Linked DNA regions of Homo sapiens. The protein of the gene in region 3 purifies or fractionates together with the protein of the main gene of each other region. This does not show direct contact. Each region holds a gene or a part of one and is shown on either strand. Other genes may lie near its edges. The genes, in order: BMP2K, AP2M1, REPS1 and AAK1.

What was found.
Region 1: the proteins of REPS1 (region 3) and BMP2K purify together in Homo sapiens (affinity purification with mass spectrometry; 4 studies listed by BioGRID and IntAct, with this or other methods). This does not show direct contact.
Region 2: the proteins of REPS1 (region 3) and AP2M1 purify together in Homo sapiens (affinity purification with mass spectrometry; 5 studies listed by BioGRID and IntAct, with this or other methods). This does not show direct contact.
Region 4: the proteins of REPS1 (region 3) and AAK1 purify together in Homo sapiens (affinity purification with mass spectrometry; 4 studies listed by BioGRID and IntAct, with this or other methods). This does not show direct contact.

The regions. Positions count from the first base shown.
Region 1 is NC_000004.12:78,912,346-78,916,897, forward strand, and holds the end of BMP2K (BMP-2-inducible protein kinase), read left to right. Parts: 3' UTR 1-4,020; downstream 4,021-4,552. UniProt on the Homo sapiens protein: May be involved in osteoblast differentiation.
Region 2 is NC_000003.12:184,177,848-184,184,620, forward strand, and holds the end of AP2M1 (AP-2 complex subunit mu), read left to right. Parts: intron 1-370; coding exon of another isoform or gene 371-376; intron 377-1,009; coding exon 1,010-1,275; intron 1,276-2,321; coding exon 2,322-2,404; intron 2,405-2,797; coding exon 2,798-2,803; intron 2,804-3,001; coding exon 3,002-3,137; intron 3,138-3,237; coding exon 3,238-3,379; intron 3,380-3,848; coding exon 3,849-3,968; intron 3,969-4,064; coding exon 4,065-4,200; intron 4,201-4,303; coding exon 4,304-4,401; intron 4,402-4,909; coding exon 4,910-5,021; intron 5,022-5,634; coding exon 5,635-5,769; 3' UTR 5,770-6,244; downstream 6,245-6,773.
Region 3 is NC_000006.12:138,908,248-138,915,283, reverse strand, and holds part of REPS1 (ralBP1-associated Eps domain-containing protein 1), read left to right. Parts: intron 1-522; coding exon 523-587; intron 588-2,333; coding exon 2,334-2,519; intron 2,520-3,912; coding exon 3,913-4,008; intron 4,009-6,467; coding exon 6,468-6,616; intron 6,617-7,036. UniProt on the Homo sapiens protein: May coordinate the cellular actions of activated EGF receptors and Ral-GTPases.
Region 4 is NC_000002.12:69,633,706-69,640,741, reverse strand, and holds part of AAK1 (AP2-associated protein kinase 1), read left to right. Parts: intron 1-7,036.

The DNA.
Region 1 (4,552 bases), on a different chromosome or scaffold from region 3:
TGAGAAGGGACAGTGAAACTGTTATTTTTGATATCAGAATGTCATTTTTATGTGCATATCCCTAAAATTAGGGTTATTTCTACATACACTAGTTACACTTGTGAATTTTTTTTAAGGTCTCTTTTAATTTCCAGACAGTTAAAAACAATCTAGTTATCTTAAAGCATTAGAAAGTTATTATCTGGAGAGTGCAGAGATTTCAGTCCATACACCTTTCTCCACAAAGCAGAGCCAGAAGTAACTGACTATTGTGCCTAAAACTCTGTTTCATTTTTAAAAACAAGTGCCATTAAAATGGAATATCTAATGATAAGCATATGAAATAATGTGTAATTAGCTCAATTTAACTATTCCACAACTTACATATTCCAAAACAATGTTATACATGATAAATATATATAATTTTTGTCAGTTAAAACAAATTAAAAAAATGGACTATCGTCGCACAGAAGCCTAGAACAAAAATATGAAGAGAAATATCTGACATTTGTAAAGAAATTATAAGAAGAAAAAAAGATACAGAACAGAAAACATTCACTACTTTAGAAACACTTTATGCATGGCTTCTTGCCCCAAACTTTTATTGTGATGGCCCTAATAAAGCAGATTATTGGAAAAATTGGAGGACAAGGGTTGTATAAAAATTTTATTTTATGAAGAAAATATGTAGCGGAAACTGAATTTTCAAGACATTTACAATGTGAAATCATGTTGCATTTAACAATGTACTTTATTAGCAACTTCACCAAATATTCCCCAAGTCATAAGCAACAATTATTTTTATTAGGTTTTGGGGGGTGGAGTAGTTTTAATAAAGTGCACAGAATGGTGACACCCACAAAGCCTTATATAAAGGCAGGATTCATGCATCCTGCTGCAAGTACCTCTGCACTAATATACCAGATCCTAAAATGCATATAAGGTGGACTAGCATCTTAATTCTGCTAGTTGATTGTGTCTTTACTGAAAAGAACCCAGCTACCAATTTGCCTTTTTTTACACCACAAATCCTAATTAGAAACTTGAGGTTTTATAGAAATCATTTAATGATAGAGATTACATATGTGAATTAATGTGAATATAGTATCTGTGCTTCCTGTGTCTATGACTATTTTAAGATATAATTGTGCTGCGCTATCAGATTAACATTTGGAAGTTTCTAGAACAGTTAATGCTATTTACAGAAAGGAGTAGAAACTCATCAACTGGCACTCTCTTTGATTTTTATATTTTAAATTAACTCTCTTCGATCTCAAAGTATATTTTACGAGTAATTTTATTAGGAATCTCTTATAGTGCCCCAATGGGATAAGCTATTTGCCTATTTTCACAGTTCTGAACTTGGAAAGAAGCAAAGTATATGTAACTAAACCACATATTTGTCTTTTTATTGCTTTTTCCCTTCTTTTATATGCTAAATCAAATATAGATTTGTGGATAGGGAAGCAATATGTGAATCACAATGTAGCAGAGGCAGACCAAGCATTACATTATTATTTAGAGCTGGACTGCACCAATTACTTGTCCTCGTGCCAAAGGCAAATATGTTTGCACCTTTTTTTTTTTTTCTGATTCTCAGGTTGATTAATACTGCTAATGCAAATGCTCAAGTAGATGTTTAAAAACTTTACAAAATAGATTCAAGTGATACTTTCTTTTAAAAGTGAAGAGTTGATGATTACACATAGTAAATTCATGAACTACAGTAGGTTTGTATCAAACAATTTTTTTTAATGAAAATCTGTTGAGGTGTACACAATATGCTTCTTGATTGTATTAGTCCTTGGTCTCTGCTAGACCTCATGAGTTTCATCATTTAGAAAAGGGGTAGAGGATGAACTAATGTCTCCTTCAGATGTAAACATGAAATACCTAGAGTTTTACTTGCTTTTCAATACACTGAATAATTTTAAATGATTCTGACACTGATGTAGACCCTTTGACTTATAAATTCTGAGGAAACAACTGACAGCATAAAATATTTACATTCTTATAACACAGCACAGTGACTTTCTTCTTTCAAGATTGTAGCTCAGAGAAAAGATACAGGATTCAATTGGGGGTTCAATAGGATAGAAATGGAGAGATTCCTTTGTGTTGTAGTAGAGGCATTTTCCTAAGGAGTATAGATTTATACTTTGCATTTTCATTCATCATCCCCCAGAATCATGGTCAAGGTGTAGGTCACTCCACACAGCTGATGCTCAGGTTATTCCCTTGTGAGAATTATGAGAATAAAGCTCCCAAGATATGTGAAAGTGCTTAACACAGTACCTGGCACACAGCACTCAATAAAAGTTTGGCTCTATTATGGGATGGTTCAATTCTGGTTTAAGGAAGGAAGAAAGGTTATTATATATGTACCACTAAGCAAATATATATATATATATATATTTGGGGTTTTTTTTCCCTAATATTATTTGGGTGTCCCCTGTGCTTCTTTAGGATGTAGTTATAACTAAACCTGTTATACTTGAACATCACTAAGAGAAGTAAATTATTATGAAGCTAGCAAAAATCTTGAGGCCAAAGTTGTTTCTTAACAGCTTTAATAATGCTTGTTGATTTTGAATAATCCTTTAAAAAGTGGACCATTTGCTTATTTTAATATCACGTCAGTAAAATGTTAGTATTAAAAAGATCAGCTTTTTATGGCATTGAAGAATGTATCTGCTAAGACACAAAAATTGCATGGTAAGTATAATAGGTGGAGGAGGAAAGGTTGTAGGCCGGATGAAAATTTAACTGACTAGAACATTTATTCAGGAGTGTAATTATTTTCCCTTACCCCAATCCCTGTGTACGTGTTGGGTATAGTTACGACATTATCCGGATTTGCAAATAGACACAACTTTCAGTCTTACCCTGTTTATTGTTTAAGAGTGATAGACTGTTGTCCTCTTGCTGGTGGAAAATCTAAGGTGGAGCCCACTCTTCTATGCTGAAGTTCACCAGGCAGAGCAGTTTTCTTACAAGTCAGCTACTCTGCTTGGTTTATTTTAGGTTTTGGTACTTCACGTAAGCACTGTTAGAAGGTACAAGTGTATTAATATCACTAGTTTTGAGGCGCTTGGGTACATTTGTTTTTAATATATTTAGAATGTGCAGTAAACTTTTTTCTCATTTTTTTTTCTTTTTAGCAAACTTGTTATTTTAGGTCCAATTATTGAGTTGACAGTCTACTGTGAGAATGAGATGACATATCTACTGTGAGAATACCATAAATGATGAATAGTTTATTTGAGAACTTTTATACTCAGTGGTGTTTTATATATTAAGATAAAAATATGTACACACATGCATGTCACATCTCTCTACTGTGGAGTTAATGTGAATTTTTAAAAAATGGAATTGCAACCACAATCATATCTAAGAGAACATTCACTCCTAGTGAGGGTTTACAAAAGCTACTAAGAGAATAAGGTAGATGATAATGCAAAGGGTCATGATTTGGGGTTATTTTTGTTTTATTTTAAAATTTATACTGCTACTTTTGAAAGAATTGTTTTTATGACTATGCTCTTTTTGTGATTGAAAAGTCATCTAATAGAAGCTGTATAGAAGCTACTTTTTAATTGCTGGCAAACAGCTTTAAGTGCACTTTCTTTGATTACACTTCCATTTTTTGTTAAACTTGAATTTTCTGAAGCCTTTTATGTACCACTAAGCAAATAACTTTAACCTTTAAATAAAGCAAATTTACATCTTTATTGTATTTCTACTTGTTACAAAACATACTTGCTAAAGTAACTTCAGTCCTCAAATATAGCTGGGAAACAATTATGAGATAGACTCAGTCTCCCCCTCCCACCCCTTTTCCCCTGCCATATCTAATTAAGCACTAACTGATTTTATTACTTTATTGCCTTTACACTGCTTATTCTTTTTGACTGAATTCTGTCCCTGATTCACTGTTTTGTTTGAAATTTAAAGTTATTTTCTTACTGTATTTATCATACCTGTTTTAATCTGTTTTCTTTAAATGCAATAAATCCCAAATGGATTGCATATTCTTTATAATCAGTGACTTTGGAGTTTTTCATTATTTGTCTTATTATGACTTTTGGATGTAAACTTCTATTCAAATTCAGTTATTTCATTCACACCACAAACATTAAGCACCTATTATGTAGCAGCTAGTGGAATAGAAAAGTTGCTAAGATTAGATCCCTATTCTTAAGGAGCTCAGAGTTTACAATTTAGGTAAGAAAACCCATTTGACTTAAGAGTTTTTGCCACAAGAACACTTAATAGCACGACTTTTTCAGTGAGTCATAATTACTGATACTCGAGTGATGACAGTAAGGCAAAAACAATATTGTGTAGTGCCTTCTGAATAACTTATTTTACAGCTTCCACATTATAAATTTTTAAAAATCTTTAAAACTGATAACATCTTTGGCTGAATTAATACTGGTTATTTGCTTAAATAACATTGTAATCCTCAATTATATCAGAAAAGAGGCTATGACACATTAAAGAGAAAACCTATTTATTGGATTGATGGACTAAGCTTGGCATCAAGGTTATAATATGTATTATTCCAAAAACT
Region 2 (6,773 bases), on a different chromosome or scaffold from region 3:
AGATAAAGTCACAGAATGGGCCTGTGGCAGTGCTCTTCATTTGGCTCCCTGGCTGATGGGCTGGCTTGGCCCTTGCGGGCGTTTGTCCATTGGCTGGTGGTGTGGCATGAGCTAGAGCTGCAGCTGTGGCAAGGCCTGGCCTGTCTGAACCTGGCTGGCTACACCCCCCACCCCAGACCCCCTCCTGCCTTGGATGGACTGGGCAAGCCAAGGCCAGGTCACACGCCGCCTTGCCTGTCTTGTCTGCTTCTGCCTCACGGTGTGTGCCGCCCTCCCGGTGTGTTGTGTGTCTAACCCTCTCTCTCGTTGCTATCACTCTCCTCTTCTTGCTGGCGTCATTTCTCTCATCCCATCTCATTGGCTGCCGTAGCAATAGGTAAGCGGCCTCTCAAGCTGCTGCCCAGGTACAGGTGGGTGGGGGCCTGCCCCCATCGTTTTCCTGCATCCTTTTTCATTCCCTCAACTTGCTCTGGAGTTGGATCCTGGGCAAGAATGGGTAGCACAATTCCATGGCCCCTTGGTACTTCTCCCTCCTTTGTGACTTCTGAAGCCATGCTGGCTTTGTCTAACATCTGGAGGAGTCGGCCCTCCCCACTGGTGGGATCACTAGCGGGAGGACTGAAGAAGCAGTGTCTCTTTCTGTCCTGGACCTGGGAGCTTACAGGGAAGCTAGATAAAGCTGGGAAATTAGGGCCAGCCCTGGGAGTAAGGAATATCTGTCTCTAAACCTGATGAACCTCACTTTATTAAGGTTACATCAGCCTTAATAGTTGACTTCCCTATTTCTTGTGGCCTTTAGACACTAGCCCAGCTCAGGCACTCTTCCCATGCCTCCACAGGGAGTCATAAGAAGGGAACCACTCCAGTGGTTTAGGCATTGGCTTTCTTTGGAGTGTGTGTGTCAGACTTCTGCAGAAAGGAGGGTGGGGCTGTTAGCAGCTGTGGTTGATCCTTATGGGGTAAGGTTCACCTGGGTGCTGAGCAGGCCCTATGCACTCTTTTCCCTCAGGAGGAACGCAGTGGATGCCTTTCGGGTCAATGTTATCCATGCCCGGCAGCAGGTGCGCAGCCCCGTCACCAACATTGCTCGCACCAGCTTCTTCCACGTTAAGCGGTCCAACATTTGGCTGGCAGCAGTCACCAAGCAGAATGTCAACGCTGCCATGGTCTTCGAATTCCTCTATAAGATGTGTGACGTGATGGCTGCCTACTTTGGCAAGATCAGCGAGGAAAACATCAAGAACAATTTTGTGCTCATATATGAGCTGCTGGATGGTGAGGCTGGCGGGCTGGCACGGCAGCGGGCGTAGGGTGGGAAAAAACCAGGCTGGGCCTGGCCTGAAGGTGGGTGTAGGTCCGAGGCTCTGGTACACTCTGAACTTTCTTTCCTGAGTATTTGGTCTCTTGGGCTAGGATCTCTATGCCCCTCAGAAGGCCAGTTCACATCCAGACCTGAAGGCTGGTCTGAAGTAGAACACAGAAATAGGCCAGCAGGTGATCTTCCAAGGGGCTAGGAACCTGACTCAGGTTTGGTGGCTGAACCTCCTGTATTCATCCTCTTTCCTTTGTGGCTTGGACCTTAGTTCACTAACTGTCCACCCAGTTTTCCATCTCAGCAGCTGCTTCAGAGCCTGGGGGAGAGTGAGATATTACAAGCCTCTTGGGGTGCACTGTTATCTCTGTTCCTCTGTAGAGTGTGATCTAAGAGAAGGTGAATACTTCCACCTTCCCAATGTCTATTTTCTGGAGAAAACAGCTCAAAGCTTCTTGACTTGCCACCCACTGGCCATGTGACTCTTCTATTGATTTCTTTTCTTTTTTTTTTTTTTTTGAGACAGGGTCTTGCTCTTGTCACCTATGCTGAGTGCAGTGGTGCAATTGCAGCTTACTGAAGCCTCGACCTCCTAGGCTCAAGCAATCCTCCAGCCTTAGCCTCCTGAGTAGCTGGGACCATAGGCACATGCCACCATGCTTGGCTCATTTTTACTACTTTTTGTAGAGCTGGGTCTCGCTATGTTGCCCAGGCTGGTCTTGAACTCCTGGGCTCAAGTGATTCTCCCACCTTGGCCTCCCGAAGTGTTGGGATTACAGGCATGAGCCACTGCACCTGGCCTTGATTTCTCTATTTGAAAAAAATCAAACATTTGAATTGTTTTCCTGTAAAGCACAAATCACAGAATAAATGCTACAAAGCTAGAAGACTTTCTTGCGGATGATCCCACATGGGCTTTGGGAGCTGTGCCGGTCAGATGTGTAGGCCCAAGTAGGGGCTGGAATGAAGAAGCTCTGTCCAGGGGCTGATGGTTCCCTTCTTTTTGCAGAGATTCTAGACTTTGGCTACCCACAGAATTCCGAGACAGGCGCGCTGAAAACCTTCATCACGCAGCAGGGCATCAAGAGTCAGGTACTTGAATTGTGCAGACTATAGTCAGGGTGGAGTCCAATCTCCCTTCATCTCAGCTGGCCCCTGAGCCTTGTCTGAGCTGACTCATGAGCCCTCCCATGACAGGAAGTGCTGGCCTGAGCCTCCTGCCATGATTGCAGGCCGATTTTGCTCTGTGTGGTCCTCCCACTGCAGGAGCAGCCAATTCAGCATCTCTATTACCAGGAATACAGCTCAAGCAGTTTCCTTTTGCACTGAGGGGTGGGGGAGGAGGCCTGGTCTTGAGGCCTGGTATTCCTCAGGAGGAGCGAGCTTGGGCCCTCTCCTCTAGGATCCAAGCCTCATAGCTTTCTCCTCCTTTTCTGCCTCCCTTGCTGCTTCATGTGGGCACCTCGTTGGCCCTGCGGCCTCCAGCATCAGGTAAGCTCTTCCCTCAGCTTCCACCCTTGCAGCTTTGCTTTGTTTCTCCAGGCCCTGCCCTTTGGGGCTTATAGGGGAAAATGGATTACAGGTGGGGACTAGAAGGGATGGGGAATGAGGGTGGAGTGGGGATAGAGACAGGATGATTAAAGGGACAGAGGAGTGAGGCCATTGCTGTTTGTTTCTGCCCTCATGTAGACAAAAGAAGAGCAGTCACAGATCACCAGCCAGGTAACTGGGCAGATTGGCTGGCGGCGAGAGGGTATCAAGTATCGTCGGAATGAGCTCTTCCTGGATGTGCTGGAGAGTGTGAACCTGCTCATGTCCCCACAAGGTGAGGTCCCTCTCACGACAAAGTTGGAGGGGGCCCAGGGCAGGATCCTGGGCCTGCCTGCCTGACTCCGCTGCTCCCCATTTATCTGTTCCATCACCAGGGCAGGTGCTGAGTGCCCATGTGTCGGGCCGGGTGGTGATGAAGAGCTACCTGAGTGGCATGCCTGAATGCAAGTTTGGGATGAATGACAAGATTGTTATTGAAAAGCAGGGCAAAGGCACAGCTGATGAAACAAGCAAGAGGTGCCTGAGGCAGGAGAGCTGGTGGGAGAGGGTGTCCCTTGGAGGGCTCAGTGGGGTCTAGTGAACCACAAGTTTCTTCTGGATTTCATTCCCACTGTAATTGCAAACTCTGTTCCTGACGGTAAGCCTGGCTGTTCGCTCTTGACATTAGTGCTACGAGAGATGAGGGGATCGTCCTCAGAGAGCAAGCCCCTTTGTTTGGTCCCTAGGACCAAGGCCTTTTCTGTACATACTGACAGCCTCTGCCCAGTGTGCCTGAAACACCCAGGTCCCTAGCAGAAGGAGCCCCAAGAGATGAGCTTGCAAGGCTTCCCTCTCATCCCAAGCTCTGGGGCAGACCTCCGAGTCACAAAGCTGCATTCTAGCAGCTTTTCATAGTCTCTGGTGCCAGCCTGGGGTGGAGTGGTCTCCCAGCATGACAGCTGTCATTCTCCTGTACCAATGAGACCTCTTCTGCCCCTGCTTGCAGCGGGAAGCAATCAATTGCCATTGATGACTGCACCTTCCACCAGTGTGTGCGACTCAGCAAGTTTGACTCTGAACGCAGCATCAGCTTTATCCCGCCAGATGGAGAGTTTGAGCTTATGAGGTGCCATTGGGGTGTGAGGAGGCAGCTAGTGCTGCTGGCAGACTGGGGAGAGGAAGTGGGTCAGCTCTTTGGTAACCTTGCTTCCCATCCCTTAAGGTATCGCACAACCAAGGACATCATCCTTCCCTTCCGGGTGATCCCGCTAGTGCGAGAAGTGGGACGCACCAAACTGGAGGTCAAGGTGGTCATCAAGTCCAACTTTAAACCCTCACTGCTGGCTCAGAAGATCGAGGTGAGGACAGGGGGCTCAAGGAGGAGGAAGAACTTGTCCCTAGGAATAAAGGTAGCTGATGTCACAGCTTGACAGAGCTCCCTGACAGGTGTGTCACTTCTAGGTGAGGATCCCAACCCCACTGAACACAAGCGGGGTGCAGGTGATCTGCATGAAGGGGAAGGCCAAGTACAAGGCCAGCGAGAATGCCATCGTGTGGAAGTGAGTCTTTCCTTCATTAGGCCACAGCAGGGCTCAAGATCCCAGTATACCCTCTTGTTTTCAGCTTTGATCCTTCTGAATGAGGGGCAGGGGAGTGTGCCTGTTTGCTTTTCTAGGAGCCTCTGCTTGTACTGTCAGTCTTTATACCTCCATGTGAGTATGTACACGCCTGCATTTGGGTTCATGCACGTGCTTATTTTTTAAGATGCTTTGGCATTTCCCTTTGTAATGTATACATTACAAAGGGAATACATTGCCTTTGTAATGTATCTGTGAAGCAGACAAAGCAAACGATAGCATGTCCAAGTGTCTAGGCAGAAACTGCATCCTGTTGTTCTAAAGAAGTAGACCCAAGTTTCCATAGCAAGTGGTTAGCAGGGTCCTGACCACTTCTCCTTGTTCTGGCACCTCCTGCAAGCTCCTGGGCTCTCTCCTTGCTTGAAATGGGCAACTGCCCTTGAAACTCCTCCAAGCCCCAATGGGCTGCCCATTGTCCCTGTGTTCCCAGGATCAAGCGCATGGCAGGCATGAAGGAATCGCAGATCAGCGCAGAGATTGAGCTTCTGCCTACCAACGACAAGAAGAAATGGGCTCGACCCCCCATTTCCATGAACTTTGAGGTATGGCAGAGGAGGGGCCTAGAGTCATGCCAGGGTATGCTGGAAGACCTCTTAGAGATCATTCCGATAAACTGCTGCACCTTAGAGGTGAGGAAACTGAGGCCTAGAAAGAAGAACTGGCTTTAATTCATAGATCCATTCTTCCCCTTTCAAGCCTCTTAGTAGAAATTACTATTTGTGATGAGGCAAATCTTTTACTTCTCTCGGCTTGTCCTAACACAGTTCTTTCAAAAAACTTAGATTGTTTAAATGCCAGGTAAGACACAAAGTTTACTTACAGACAGGATAATGGGCTGACTTTGCTTTGCGCATGTTAGACATAATTTTCTCCACCTTATTTTTAAGTTCATAATATTGAGCAGGATAAGTATGTTCTAAAGCAGTTCTTTGGTTGCTGTCTCCTGCTGATTAAAGGAACTGATTCAAGGTGTCACAGGTAGGGCTTTCTTCTTTAGTCACCTCTTAGAAGGTCCCACGCCGCCCCAGCTTCTTTCAGGACCCCAGCCATACAAACACCTGTAGTAGCGATGAAGTAGGGCAGGGCAACGGGACTTCCCAGAGGAGAGCGGCTGTAAGAGGAAGGCCACATTTCTAACTAGCTCTCCTTGCCCAGGTGCCATTCGCGCCCTCTGGCCTCAAGGTGCGCTACTTGAAGGTGTTTGAACCGAAGCTGAACTACAGCGACCATGATGTCATCAAATGGGTGCGCTACATTGGCCGCAGTGGCATTTATGAAACTCGCTGCTAGCTGCCACTAGGCAGCTAGCCCACCTCCCCAGCCACCCTCCTCCACAGGTCCAGGTGCCGCTCCCTCCCCCACCACACATCAGTGTCTCCTCCCTCCTGCTTTGCTGCCTTCCCTTTGCACCAGCCCGAGTCTAGGTCTGGGCCAAGCACATTACAAGTGGGACCGGTGGAGCAGCCCCTGGGCTCCCTGGGCAGGGGAGTTCTGAGGCTCCTGCTCTCCCATCCACCTGTCTGTCCTGGCCTAATGCCAGGCTCTGAGTTCTGTGACCAAAGCCAGGTGGGTTCCCTTTCCTTCCCACCCCTGTGGCCACAGCTCTGGAGTGGGAGGGTTGGTTGCCCCTCACCTCAGAGCTCCCCCAAAGGCCAGTAATGGATCCCCGGCCTCAGTCCCTACTCTGCTTTGGGATAGTGTGAGCTTCATTTTGTACACGTGTGACTTCGTCCAGTTACAAACCCAATAAACTCTGTAGAGTGGAGTTGCTGGCTTAGTGTTGATGTGGGAGCTACATGGGGAGGGAACTGGTGTTGCTCTCCGTGCAGTTTTCTGTACTGAATACTCTAAAGGCTCTTTCCTTGTCTTGTCCCAGTTAGGCCCCTCCTGGGCCATCCAAGCCCTTATCCTTGTGGGTTCTGGGCCCAGGTTTCCTGGCTCCTCTTAGAAAGCCTCAAGGGCATGCAGCCGCAGCGGGCCCCAGTACCCTGGGGATAGATTCTTTCCCTAGCTCCTTTTTATTCCCCCTGGTCCTCGGACTCCTAGGCTCAAGAGATCTTACCTGCCCCAGCCTCTGGAGTAGCTGGGATCACAAGCACGCACCACCACAGCACCCAGCTCTTTCTCTAATTCTTAGGCAGATGTTTTCTAATTAGATTAAGCATAAATTAAGTGTGAAGTTTACATTTGGTCTTGTAGCCATCCTAAGAAATTGACCTTTTAATTCCATCATTTACCCAAGCTTCCCAAATCTTGCTGACTGGGTGGTAGGAGGAAAGATTTGCAAGGAGAAT
Region 3 (7,036 bases):
GAACTGATAGGTCTCAATTTGGCTGATGAAGAAGAAGAGTCATAACTTACCCAGGTTTTTAATTTTTGAAGAACTGGCAGTATTGTTGTTACCTTGGTTAAAATAGAAAAGTTAGGGCAGAGGATGATGAAGTTATGTTTTAGTCACTGTGAGTTTAGAATGGTGAGGAAAAGTGAAGTGTTAAGTGAAAGGGAAAATTTGGAAGTTTTCATTTGATACCTAAACAGCAGTCAGAGATACACGAAGAAAATCAAGATTGTTTGCTATTATGGGAATAGGCAGGAGTATGCCAGGAGGGCTTCATGTAATAGAGGTAAGAAGCAAAGTGAGATCTGATGAAAGGCTGTGAGATTTGGTCTTTAGGTTACATACAGACCATGTAACAAGTTAGTACTTGCCTTCTAATACTTAACAAACATTCTTAGAAATCTTTATCATGTAGTCACATTCATTCAGCCTATTTCTTCTATTAACAAAGTGATTATACAGTTACTAAAAAGAAGAACTTTTGTATTCATGCAGGACAACAACAGGCTGGAGTTGTTGCCCATCCTCCTGCAGTGCCTCCAAGACCACAGCCCTCACAGGTAATTCTCCAAGGTATTTATTACTAAATGTCCCATGATCACTTTGCCTGCTAGGTATTTAATTCTATTCTCAAATTATTTGGAAGGTCAGGAATGATCTGTTGGTAATCTTTAATGAGCATTTAATTCAGTGAGGCTGAATCTCATTTTGAAAGATGCACATTTCAAGAATGATCTGAGTTATTTTTTGAAAGAGCCTTAAAAGTGAAACAAATGATAATGTCTTGACAGAGAAGAGTTTAGTGGAAACAACAATGGATTGGGAGATAGGAAATATCCATTAATGTCCTGGGTCTAGCAGTGACTCACAAAATCACTTCACCAGGCTGGGTGCAGTGGTTCACACCTGTAATTGCAGCACTTTGGGAGGCTAAGGCAGTAGGATTTCTCAAGCCCAGGAGTTCCAGACCAGCCTGGACAACATAGTGAGACCCCCATCTCTAAAAACAAAACAAAAAAATTAGCTGGGTGTGGTGGTGTGCACCTGTAGTCCCAGCTACTTGGGAGGCTGAGGTGGGAGGATCTCTTGAGCCTGGGAGATCAAGGCTGCAGTGAGCTGTAATTGCACCACTGCACTCCAGCCTGGATGACAGAGTGAGACCCTGTCTCAAAACAAAACAAAATACCCCTAAATAACCTCACTGCATCTCTCTGGATGTGTTTACCACATGAGTTAAGGAAGTATAATGACCTCTGCATCCCTTCCACATCAAAATTAGAGTGCTGTAGTAGACATTTATAAAATGCTTTGGGACAGCCTTAGTGGCTAAAGTTAAGGATCACATTATACATGAAATGAAGGAATGAGACTTAGCAGGGACTTGAAAGATAAAGTGGAATTTATTGGGGAAAAGGTATTCCAAACCGAAGGTATGACATCCACAAAGCGATGGAGGTTTGTGTTAAGCCTGGCACATTCCTCAGGGGAAAACAAGTTAGTTCAGCACAACAGGAGTAGATGTGTGGAGTGATGAGAAATGAAGCTGTCCATATCGTAGTAAGAAGGATAGACTTTTTCTTAGAGGAGATGAAGAATTTTTAAAGGGAAGAGACTTCAGATTTCTTTCTTTAGTATCCTTTACTTCCTTTGTCATAAAACATCTCACACTCTATTTTAATTTCTTATTTACTTATTCTCTTCTCCTGCTCCGGACTGTCAGCTTTATTAGAGTATAAGTGGGCCTCATTTGTTTTGTTCACAAGTACATATTCAGTAAACATATTTTTAGACTGAAGATGGAGCAGCATTGGTCTGGCTGGCAAAGGAGTGGAAGATGAATTGAAGGGAAGTGTTCCTGACATGTTGGGAGGATAGAGCAGTGGTTTTCACACTTTTTAGAGCAAGCTTTTTAAGAAACAGTGAAACATTAAAAAAAAATAACTTATTTAAGGAAGAAACTATTGTGCATTAGTCCAATTAAGAAAAAAACACATGCAAGTGGAGAATGGGGGTAGGGCCAGACCTACCCTCTCCTTCATTGTACTTTCTTTGCAATACAGTTTTTGAAAAAAAATATCTTTTTATTGGAGGTTTATCATCTTAATTTTTTTTTTAGTGTCTTAGCTTTTCACTTATGGTTTAATCATTTCTTTAGAGCTAAATGTTACTATAATACACCTCTCTGAACTTACAGATAATAAAACAGGTCATCTTTATATACTAAGTTTTCGAAGAAGAAGAAGATGACTCTGTGACACTGATAGGCTGATAGAATGTGTGTTCCTCTGTTCTGAACCATTGCACAGGCTCCTGGTCCTGCTGTGCATCGCCCAGTGGATGCCGATGGCCTCATAACTCACACTAGTACCTCACCTCAGCAGATACCAGAGCAACCAAATTTTGCAGATTTCAGTCAGTTTGAAGTATTTGCTGCATCAAATGTAAACGACGAACAAGATGATGAAGCCGAGAAACATCCAGAAGTCCTGCCGGTCAGTTTTCGAGGGCTTGGCTAATTTTCTGCAGGCAGTCACTTCCCATACCATGTTGTGTCAACAGAGCAGATATTAGAGGGGACATCAGTGAGTAAAATATTCCCTGGGTCAGTGCTTCTCATCTTTTTTATTGGCCTCCAATATCTGCTGGTTGCAGTGTAATGCTTACTAAGTATCAGAGTCTGGTGGGGGTGGGGGATTGATATCACATGCAAAGACACCACCGCCTGGCCGTGGCTAAAACGCTGCTTTGGGGGTTTCCATCTTAATGCTAAGCATCTGTCTGTGTGATTTGGTGAAGATTTCCCTGTCATAAGAGGCCATGGTTACCATAGCTCCACTCATTGCAACTTTTCCCCAAGGGGAATTTCACTATATGTAACTTTTAGATCTAATTACAACTTTAACTAAAAACAAATTTCAGCCAAACTTCTAATTAAAGCATTTAAAATTTGTATGAGAGTAAGTTGCCTTAGTTAAGCAAAGACTATAGGATACCAAAATTTAATATTCACAGTGTTCTAGGATATTCTATTGTAGTTCCAATGGCAAGAACCTCTCTAGGAATCTCTGACCTAAATTGCTGAGCATAAATGTGGAGTTGGAGAGACCAGAGGAATTCTGCAATCTCTTTCTTATAGGTCATAGCCATGGAAAATTTCCTACTAGCTCCCTTTTAAAACCTACAACTTTCTGCCGTGCCCATTAGGGGACTGGGCTGCATCTAGGAGGGTCAGAGTGGGCATGTAGAGGTGTGCACAGGGTACCGTACTCACTCCCCTGGGTGGATGCCTCCCTTCTCCCAACCACGAAGACTTCCCAGACTAACCACTTAGAGGTTCGGTGCAGTGGCTGCATCCTCACCCCGTCCTCCTCTCCCTCACACATTTATGACCTGCATCCTCGCCTGTCCTCCTCTCCCTCACACATCTATTACATAGCTGCATCCTCGTCCCCTCCTCCTCTCCCTCACACATCTACTACCTGCATCCTCACCCCATCCTCCTCTCCCTCACACATCTACTACCTGCATCCTTGCCCCGTCCTCCTCTCCCTCACACATCTATTACCTGCATCCTCGCCCCATCCTCCTCTCCCTCACACATCTGTTACCTGCATCCTCGCTCTGTCCTCCTCTCCCTCACACATCTGTTACATAGCTGCATCCTTGCCCTGTCCTCCTCTCCCTCACACATCTATTACCTGCTCTCCCATCTGCCTTTCAGTAGCAGAGAAGGCTCATTTAATAAAGTTCCTTCAAGTTTCTTATCATCATCTCAGTTTTCTTGTCAGAATATTTAACATTTTATTCTGATTTGGTACATATTCTATATTTATGCATAATTACATGTTATGTAGAATTAATAGTGATAAACATATTCATTTTTAGGCTGAAAAAGCTTCTGATCCTGCAAGTTCTCTTCGAGTTGCCAAAACAGATAGTAAAACTGAAGAAAAGACAGCTGCTAGTGCTCCTGCCAATGTGGTATGCAAAATGTCTTTTATAATAATAATTTTGTACATCATAAGTAATGTGAAATAATTTTTAGAAATAAGGTCAGCCAGAAATCATCTAACCCATTTCTCTGCCTTTAACTGTAGTATAGTCAGTCTAGCTCAGAACAAAGTCTGCCTATTTAATGGAGATGATATTCTGTAATCTATGTTAAGTATGTGTCACAGGTTCTCAAAATTTAAGTGGTTATTGCATTCTTCCCACTATATAAGGTAGAACTTCTTTATAGGTGAAATTCAGTTTCTTTTATTGTAGTCTTCAATATAATAAAGAAAAATTATCAGCCCTCTAAGGTTGTTATTATTCCCTGTTCTCTTAACTTGTTCTTTAACTGTTTTAGGTATAATTTTTTCCCCCAACATTTTATTATGAAAACGTTTAAGCATACAGAAAAATTGAAACAATTTTTCATTGTACATCAGTAAATTCACTACTTTATACCATTATTATTTTAGGATACTTGCTTTACTACATATCTCTCCATGCCATCTGTTCATCTGTCAATCCTTATATGTTTTATGTCTGTGTTAGTCCGTCTGCATTGCTATAAAGGAATATGTGAGACTGGGTAATCTGTAAAGAAAAGAGGTTATGCCGGACACAGTGGCTCACACCAGTAATCCCAGCACTTTGAGAGTCCAAGGCAGGCGGATCACTTGAACTCAGGAGTTTGAGACCAGCCTGGGCAATGTGGCGAAACCCCGTCTCTACAAAAAGTACAAATATTAGCCGTGTGTGGTGGTATGCGCCTATAGTCCCAGCTACTTGGCAGGCTGAAGTGGGGGGATCGCTTGAGCCTGGGAGGTGGAGGTTGCTGTGAGCTGAGATAGTGCCCTACACTCCACCCTGGGTGACAGAGTGAGACCCTGTCTCAAAAAAAGAAAAGAGGTTTATTTTGCCTCATGGTTCTGCATGCTGTACAGAAAGCATGGTACCAGCATCTGCTTCTTGTGAAGCCTCAGGAAACTTAGAATCATGGCAGAAGGCAAAGTGGGAGCCGGTGTGTCACATGGTGAGTGAGGGAGCAAGGAGAGATGCCAGGCTCTTTAAACAGCCAGCTCTCATGTGAACTCAAGAGTAAGAACTCATTCATTACTGTGAGAAGGGCACCAAGCCATTCACAAGGGATCTATCTCCATGACCCAAACACCTCCCACTAGGCCCACCTCCAACATTAGAGGTCACATTTCACCATGAGATTTGGAGGGGACAAATATCTAAACTATATCAGTGTACTTTAGATTGCAAGTATCAGCACACTTTCCCTTTGAGGGAATAATTTTGGTAACTTTTTTTTTCTGTTATCTAGACATTCCCAATAGTTATAAAAACAGCATGTGTTTCTGAAGTGCTTAAATTCTACTTTCTGGACACTGTGTGTGTATTAGTCTGTTTTCACACTGCTATAAAGATACCACCTGAGACGGTAATTTATAAACAAAAGAGATTTAATTGACTCACAGCTCTGCATGGCTGGGGAGGCCTCAGGAAATTTACATTTATGGCGGAAGGCAAAGGGGAAGCAGGTGGCAGGATAGAAAAAGAGTGAGGAAGTGCCTCACTGTAAAACCATTAGGTCTTGTGAGAACTCCCTCACTCTCATAAGAACAGCATGGGGGACCACCCCCATGACCCAGTCACCTCCCACCAGGCCCCTCGCTTGACACATGGGGATTACAATTTGAAGTGAGATCTGGGGACACCGAGCCAAACCATATCACTATGTTTTATTACATTAGTAGTCCTGTGAGTTTTTAAGTAATGAACTTTATTTTTGTCAACTCACAGTAACAAATTAAAAATATCACTTAACTAAAGAGATAGCAGTTGACTATTGTTTTTATTTATTTACAGGTAAATCAAGTTATGGTAAATGCCAAAATGCTGTTTTTTATTCTGCCAAGGGCAGATTCATAATCACCGACAAACTGTCAACTCATTTTCAGAAGTTATAATTACTGTGCATATTAATAATGATGTTTTTGGTTTTTTAAAGAGTTGCCTAGCTTTCCATTACTTTATAATGTTATTTTATTCACTAAGATGAATGTTAGTATTTTTGAGTAAGAAATCCTATGGTGATAATGCATAGATATTTCTGGAGACTGCCTTTGTTTATTGTTGAACAGGTATATATTGATTCTGTATCATATTTATGTTAAAACTGTGAATATTACAGTCTTGCATCAGTATGTTGCTCTAAAAATACTTATATTGCAGGTACATTCATGATTGTGGTGTCAACTAGAAACATCTTTTCTCACTGTAATTTAAGTTAGCTCTTGCCACAAATATATAGATTTAAAGTAGGACAAGTAACTTTCAATTTTCCAAGAGCAAATGGCTTAAAGAAAGCAAATGGTGTTGCAAAGTGCTAACTATGAATGTCTTCAAAAATGCTTATTATTAATGGAATTCTTGTCTTAAAGAGCAAAGGCACAACACCACTTGCTCCACCACCTAAACCTGTTCGAAGAAGATTAAAATCAGAAGATGAATTAAGGCCAGAAGTTGATGAACATACACAAAAGACGGGTGTCTTAGCTGCTGTTCTTGCATCACAACCTTCTATTCCCAGGTAATCAAAGCTATTCCTAGACACATTTAATTACTAGGAAGAAAAAGCACGACAATTAAAAGTAATCAAACTGGCCCAGGCGTGGTGGCTCACACCTGTAATCCCAGCATTTTGGGAGGCTGAGCTGGGCAGATCATTTGTGGTCAGGAGTTAGACCAGCCTGACCAACATGGTGAAACCCCATCTCTGCTAAAAATACAAAAAAATTAGCCGGGTGTGGTGGTACACACCTGTAGTCCCAGCTACTCGGGAAGCTGAGGTAGGAGAATTGCTTGAACCCAGGAGGCGGAGGTTGCAGTGAGCCGAGGTGGCACCACTGCACTCCAGCCTGGGCAACAGAGCAAGACTTCATCTCACAAATAATAATAATAACAATAATCAGACTGAAGTAAATTATGGTCAGACTAGTTCTTTAATTGA
Region 4 (7,036 bases), on a different chromosome or scaffold from region 3:
GCGAGAGAGAATGTCACGTAAAACTGGGTCTGGCTATGCGCCCTTTTTGTGTTCTTTGGCTTAAGTTGAGTTTGAATTTGTGGCTCTTAGAAGTATGTAGATATGTAGGAGCCAGTATACAAAGTATTTATGTAGCACCTACCAAGTCCAAAGACCCTATGAAGTTCTGAGATGGATGAGGGAGGTCTATAGTGTGATTGACATCTGCCTTTAAGGATCTGCCAATGAATTTGGGAAGATGAGGCATACATTCACACATACAGTAGCATGGTTACCAGCACTGTCTGTAGAGTCAGACAGATCTAGGTTCAAATTCTGGATCTGTTCTTTACTAGCTGTGGAACTGTAGGCAAGACATTCCAAACCACTCTTGAATCTCTGTTTCCCTGTGGCAGTGGTTCTCAAAGTGGGGCATACTTATCACCTGCGAGCTTGTTGGAAATGGAGATTCTCAGGCCTCACTCTGTAGGCTGTGGGTGTGGGGCTTAATAAGTTCCTGGAGAGATTCTGACGCAAGGTCAAGTTTGAGAACCACTGCTTAATGGGCTGGTCATGAAGATTAAATGAGGCAATATATATAATTAACATTTTCAGGTGTTCAATAAATGGTAGCCATTACTTACCAGCAACGTTATACATCATATGTATATATGTGGGGGGGGAGAGAGAGAGAGAGAGAGAGAGAGAGTGTGTGTGTGTGTGTGTGTGTGTGTGTGTGTGTGTGTGTTAAAGGGGAGTGGGAGCAATGTGAAAGCTAGTTGAGCTGCAGCAATCTGAAGCAATTCCTTTCCCCCATTGTTAGGGGACAGAGCCAGATGTTCTTTGCAGAGTCCTCACCAGCTCCTTAAAGGCTTAACAGACGTTTTGGGTAGCCATGCTCCTTCCCTGGACTCTCTTCTCTGTGAGTCCCCGAGTGCTGACTTATCTACAGTTCTAGCCAGAGTTGTTTAAGGACCACAGGAGTTGTACCCTGTGTGCCCAGAGCGGTGGCTAGGCAGTTTAGGGAGGAGTGGTGTGAGAGGCTTCAAAACACAGACCAGATTACCACCACATTCCGCTGATGATCTCTTTTTCTCTAGCGTGGGTATTGGTCTGTGCTTTTTCATAAGGAATTGCAAGAACCCCAAGGAGCAGGTGCTGGGTAAGACAAAAAGATGTCGCACTGCCATACCTCCCCTGGTAGCATCAGCCTTCCTGGCCTGGTTTCACTAACTAGTCCAGCAGGGGCTGTTTGGGGGAAGTGAAGGCTTTAAGTTATGAGTTTAGAGGAATATGGCTATTTCTAGGCTGGGTGCCAGGGAGAATATTTTCTTTCTAGCTTTCTCAGCAAAGATGCCATGATGAGAAGCTAAATCATGTCTAAGTTAATGGGCATATGATATCAAGGGAAGATTTGGTTTAAGCTTCCAGAATGAGCTCAATGGGAAAATTGGAGCAATGTTCAAAGAAGGATTGAGAAGCTGTGCTTTTATCATACTTCCTTAGCTATACGAGGACTTATATCTAAGCTTTAAACAATAAATGTTTATTTATTACTGTGTTGAAGACAACATTCTGGAACTATAAGGTGGACTAGATGGCTCCTCAGAACAGCTTTCTAATTTATATTCAAGGAATCCAGGTCCAAGGCTGATGAGAAGTACCAAATGTCCACATCAGTAAACTTTGATAATTTCTCCTACCTACAGAGCAAACTAGTAAGGCTTAAAAATGTGTGTGAAATCACCAAAAATTCCATTAAAGGCACATAATATGTTGGTGGTATCAATATGATACACGTACGTGCCTCTTTGTGGCAGGCACTGTATTAGGTTCCAGAGATCCTAAGATGAATGGGACACAGGCCTGACTCTTAACAGAGCTCAACACCTGAGATAAGTGTCCAGCACTTAAGCGTGGCCTTTGACATACATACCTTAGATGGTAAAAGATGTTATGATAAAGAGCCTGGGGGTGAGAGTTCATAGGTGACATGAAGTTTGAACAGGAATAGAAATTGCCCAGCAGATGTTCCAGATGGGGGTTACTCAGGACCTCTCAGGCTGAGAGAATAGTATAGGCAAAGTGGTGAAACAGCATGATAAATTTTGAGAATACTGACTAGTTTAGTGTTACCATTTTCATCAGTACACATTTCCTCCCCAGAATCAAGGAAAGAAGGACAGAGGACACGGAGTGGTAGAATGAAATTCTTTAAGTTGCTCCCTGGAGGTGCTTGCTACTCACTTTCTTCAGTGGCCCTGGGCCTTTTGAAAGACTGATGAATAGGTACCAAGAATGCACGGCTCCCCTCCTGTGCCTCAGCCCCGTGCCAATTGTGGGGAAAGGGAGCAGCGAGTGTCTGGGGAAAGAGTGGTCCCAGAAGGTTTGATAAGAGGCTAGAAGCTTAAGCAAAAGCAGGCAGGGAAGGGAAATGACCAGTGTTACCGAAAGGTATGAACAGGGGAGATATTGAAGGTGTTTGACCAGAGCAGAAGGTACATTGGAGAGAAAAGGAAGGACTAATTTTATGGAGAATCTTGAGTGCCAGGCAGAGAGATTTAGTTATAAGCACCTGAGACCTTCTCTTGACGCAAACACCAATTTGATCCCTCCCACTTCAGATGTCTTTGCCTGCTGGGAAGTCTGGTTTTTTAGAGGCAACTGCAGATTTTCAGGGGGTGGTTTGTGAATGGTGTCTTCTTCCTGGCTTTGGGCATGATGACGGTTGTAGCTTTGCTAAATATAGCCAAATCTAGAATTCAGAAATGAAGTCCAGAATAAGCAATTGCCATGGTCAAACTCTTTCTTTCAGTCTTTCTAACAAAGTAAAGCTCATTTAATAACAAATAATGATGAAGAGAGAGCAGCAGTTTCACGTGACTTTTGAGTGGGAGGGTATGAGGGGAGACATACACTTGTACCCTGGTAGCTAAAACGCCATGTAGAGTACACAAGAAAGGTTTGATAAATATTAACAAAACACACAAAAAATATTACTGCATCAGAGCCGTCATTTTAACTTGCAATATTTGAATGTTGACGCTTCGGAAAGGGGACTAGTACCACCTTCATCTTGCACCCTTTCAAGGATGCATGCCTTCTGAGCCTACTTATGAGGTAACTGTGACATCCGCATCTGAAAGAGAAAAAAATGATAATAATAGAAACGTATTGTCTATTAAAGTAGCATCTAGCACTGTGAGCTAGCAGAGACTTGCCTCCGGTCTATTTTATGGAGCCATATTTTGGTGTGGTGGAAAGAACACTGCATTATGAATTGGGAGATCAAGGTTTGTCAGTTCATTCACTCCCTTATTCAGTAAATGTTACTGAGCATTCATTATGTGCCAGGCATCATGCGGAGATAAATGAGACATGGCTGTGCCTTGAGGACCTCACAGTCATAGGATTTCAGATATGTGAGCAAATAGCTGCAGATGCTGCGCTGGAGTCATGTAAAAGAGCTGGGGAACAGACCCAAGGCAACAATTTTGTGGGTTGGGGAGTAGTCAGGGAAAGCTAAAGAAAGGTGACATTTGAGGTGTGTCTTCAAAAATGAGAACTTATTGCTAGATGGACAAGGTAGAAGAACATTCTAGGCAGAGAGAATAACATGGCCAAAGACACAAAAGCAGAAAAATAACTGCTTACTGGGGAGCTGTATGTTTTGAGATAGCGATAATCTACTAGTGGCCCAGGGCTGTGCTGTTCAATAAAGTAGCCCACTAGCCACATATGGCTATTTAAATTATCTAAAATAGGCCGGGTGCAGTGGCTCATGCCTGTAATCCCAACACTTTGGGAGGCTGAGGCAGATGGATCACCTGAGGTCAGGAGTTTGAGACCAGCCTGGCCAACATGGTGAAACCTCGTCTCTAGTAAACACACAAAAATTAGCCGGGCGTGGTGGCGGCTACCTGTAATTCCAGCTACTTGGGAGGCTAAGGCAGCAGAATCGCTTGAATCCGGGAGGCAGAGGTTGCAGTGAGCCAAGATCCTGCCACTGTACTCCAGCCTGGGTGACAGAGTGAGTCTCCGTCTCAAAAAAAAAAAAGAAAAAGAAAAAATAAATTATCTAAAATAGCAGTTCATCAGATGCACTAGCCACATTTTGATTGCTTAATAGTCACATGTGGCTAGTGCTTACAGTTTTGGACAGCACAGGTGAGATGTATTTCATCATCACAAGTTCTGGCAGTGTTGGTCTAGAGCAGTAGTCTCTAAACTTTTTGGATAGAATAGTGCTCTAGTTAAAAAACATGCCATATCTTCATGTATGTGTGCTTGTTTATTTGTAAGTTATATTCATGTCCTGCTATCATTAGCTAATATCTGAAGTCACATTATATACTTAGGATGAAGTTCATCATAAATGATAGTGGATGCAAATCTATATTTTAAATAATCTCAACAAGATTTTGGTTAACTTATTCAATTGTGATTGTGTCTACATTGCAGTGTGACTATGTATGAAGAGTATGCCAGGAATAGATATGACAGCTCTGCCATTCTCTTGTTCATTTTTGATTGCATTATCTTTAATCCAAGGTTTTTTTTTAGTAGAAATCTTTTTAAGCCTCTAGTTTGTTTTGTGATGATTAATTAATTTAAAATAATGTAATCAGTGAATCCATTTAACCAAGCACACATGAACTATAGTATATCTCAGTGTGCTATAAAGATGTCACCCCATCAGCCCTCAATAGTGGACATGTGACTGAACATTGACTGAATGGGAGTGCTAGTGTTGGGCCATATGTTATATATTAACAAGGACAAAATCTTATTTTTTCTAAATTTTTAAATGTAAAATACACATAACCTAAAATGTATTATCTTAATCATTTTTAAATGTACGTCTAGGTGTTAAATATATTCATAATATGCAACCATCACCACCATCCATTCCCATAACTCTTTTCATCTTGTAAAACTGAAATTGTACCTATTAAATGACAACTCTCATTCCCACCTCTCTCTAGCCTCTGGCAACCAGCGCTCCACTTACTGTCTCTATGATTTTTACTACGTTGAATACCTCATATAAGTGGAATATTACTGTATTTGGCCTTTTGTCATTGGCTTATTTCACTTAGCATAATGTCCTCAAGGTTCATTTGTTTTGTACCATGTGTCAGAATTTCCTTCCTGTTTAAGGTTCAGGAATATGCCATTGTATATATATGCCACATGTATCATTCATCAGTGGACACTGGGTTGCTTCCACCTTTTAGCTATTGTGAATAATGTTGCTACAGTTATGAACATGGATGTACAAATATCTCTTCAAGACCCTGCGTTCTTTTGGGTATATACTCAGAAATGCAATTGCTAGGTCATATGGTAATCCTATTTTTAATTTTTTAAGGAATTGCCACATTGTTTTCCATAGCGGCTGTACCCATGTTTCATTCCCATCAACAGTGCACAAAGGTTCCAGTTATTCCTCATTCTCACCGACACTTGTTTTCTGTTTTGTGACAGTGGCTATCCTAATGGATGTGAGGTGGTATCTTCTTATACTTTTGATTTGTATTTCCCTAGTAATTTGTGATGTCACGCATCTTGTTATGTGTTTATTAGCTATTTGTATATCTTCTTTGGAAAATGTCTATTTAAGTCCTTTGCCCATTTTTGAATTGGGTTGTTATTTTAGGAGTTCTCTGTATATTCTGGGTATCAATTCCTTATCAGATACATGATTTGCAGATATTTTCTCACATTCTGTGGGTTGCCTTTTTACTTGGAAAATCTTACTTTTTAAAATGAAAATAAATAAAAATAGAGGATCTTTTATTTTCTTTGTCTACCCCAGTGCATTGTCATCTTGTACACTACTGTTTTGAGACCATTGTAGTCTAGAGCAGTGGTTCTGTACCATTTTTTGTTCCTCAAAAAAAGACCAAAAATATTGCAATACTTACTTTAACTTTACTAAGAGAAAACTAGAACATAGGTAAAGATGGTGAACTAGATGCAGCAAGGTTCCATGAAGGTGAGGTTACAGAGAAAAGACTCAGTTAAGAATAGTCTGTCTTCATGAAATCTTTCATAACCATTGCAGTCCTCTCTGATCTCCTTCCTTCAAACCCATAGCTTAGAGACTACACCACAGACCCCATCACTGCAAGAGATATGTAATTGCCTTTTGGGGTTCAGTTGTTTCTTGTGTGTTGGTCATATCATGCCAACTAGCAGGACAGGAGCCGAGTCTTCCATTACTTCTCTGTTTGCCATAGCATCTCAGACAGAGAACATATGAGATGCTTAGTAAAACCTTGCTGCCTCTTTCACTGGCAGGACAAGCTGCTCTTATGCGAAATAGCCTTATATCTACATACTCTCATTTTGTGATTGCGTCATCCCTGCAGAGGTAGAAAGCATGGTTATTACTCCAGCTGTACAGATGAGGAAGCAGTGGCTGACATTGGTTGAATGACTTCTTCAAAGTCATATTGGCAAGAAGTAGCAGTGAATGAACTTGAACCCGAGGCTCCTAGCTACAAGTATAGGATTCTTCCTTAAAATTCTTCCTTGTACAAAGGATCATCAGTATCTTTTCTCATAACATTCTTTTTATATATATATTTTTCAGACAGAGTCTTGCTGTCGCCCAGGCTAGAGTGCAGTGGCACAATCTTGGCTCACTGCAACCTCTGCCTCTCAGATTTAAGCAATTCTCCTGCCTCAGCCTCTCGAGTAGCTGGAACTATAGGCATGTGCCACCACACCCAGCTAATTTTTGTATTTTTAGTAGAGGTAGGGTTTCACCATGTTAGCCAGGCTGGTCTTGAACTCCTGACCTCAAGTGATCCACCTGCCTCAGCCTCCCAAAGTGGTGGGATTACAGGCGTGAGCCACTGTGCCCGGCCCTCTCATAACATTGTTGACCTTTAATAACCAACCCTTCCCAGCTGAATCTCCCTGTGAGCTTTTCAAGTCAGATAATGCTTCCATAGCATTTGAAGGTTGCTTACTGGCTTAGTTCCTCTGGGCTGCTGTAACAAAATATCAGAAACTAGGTAGCCTATAAACAATAGAAATTTATTTCCCA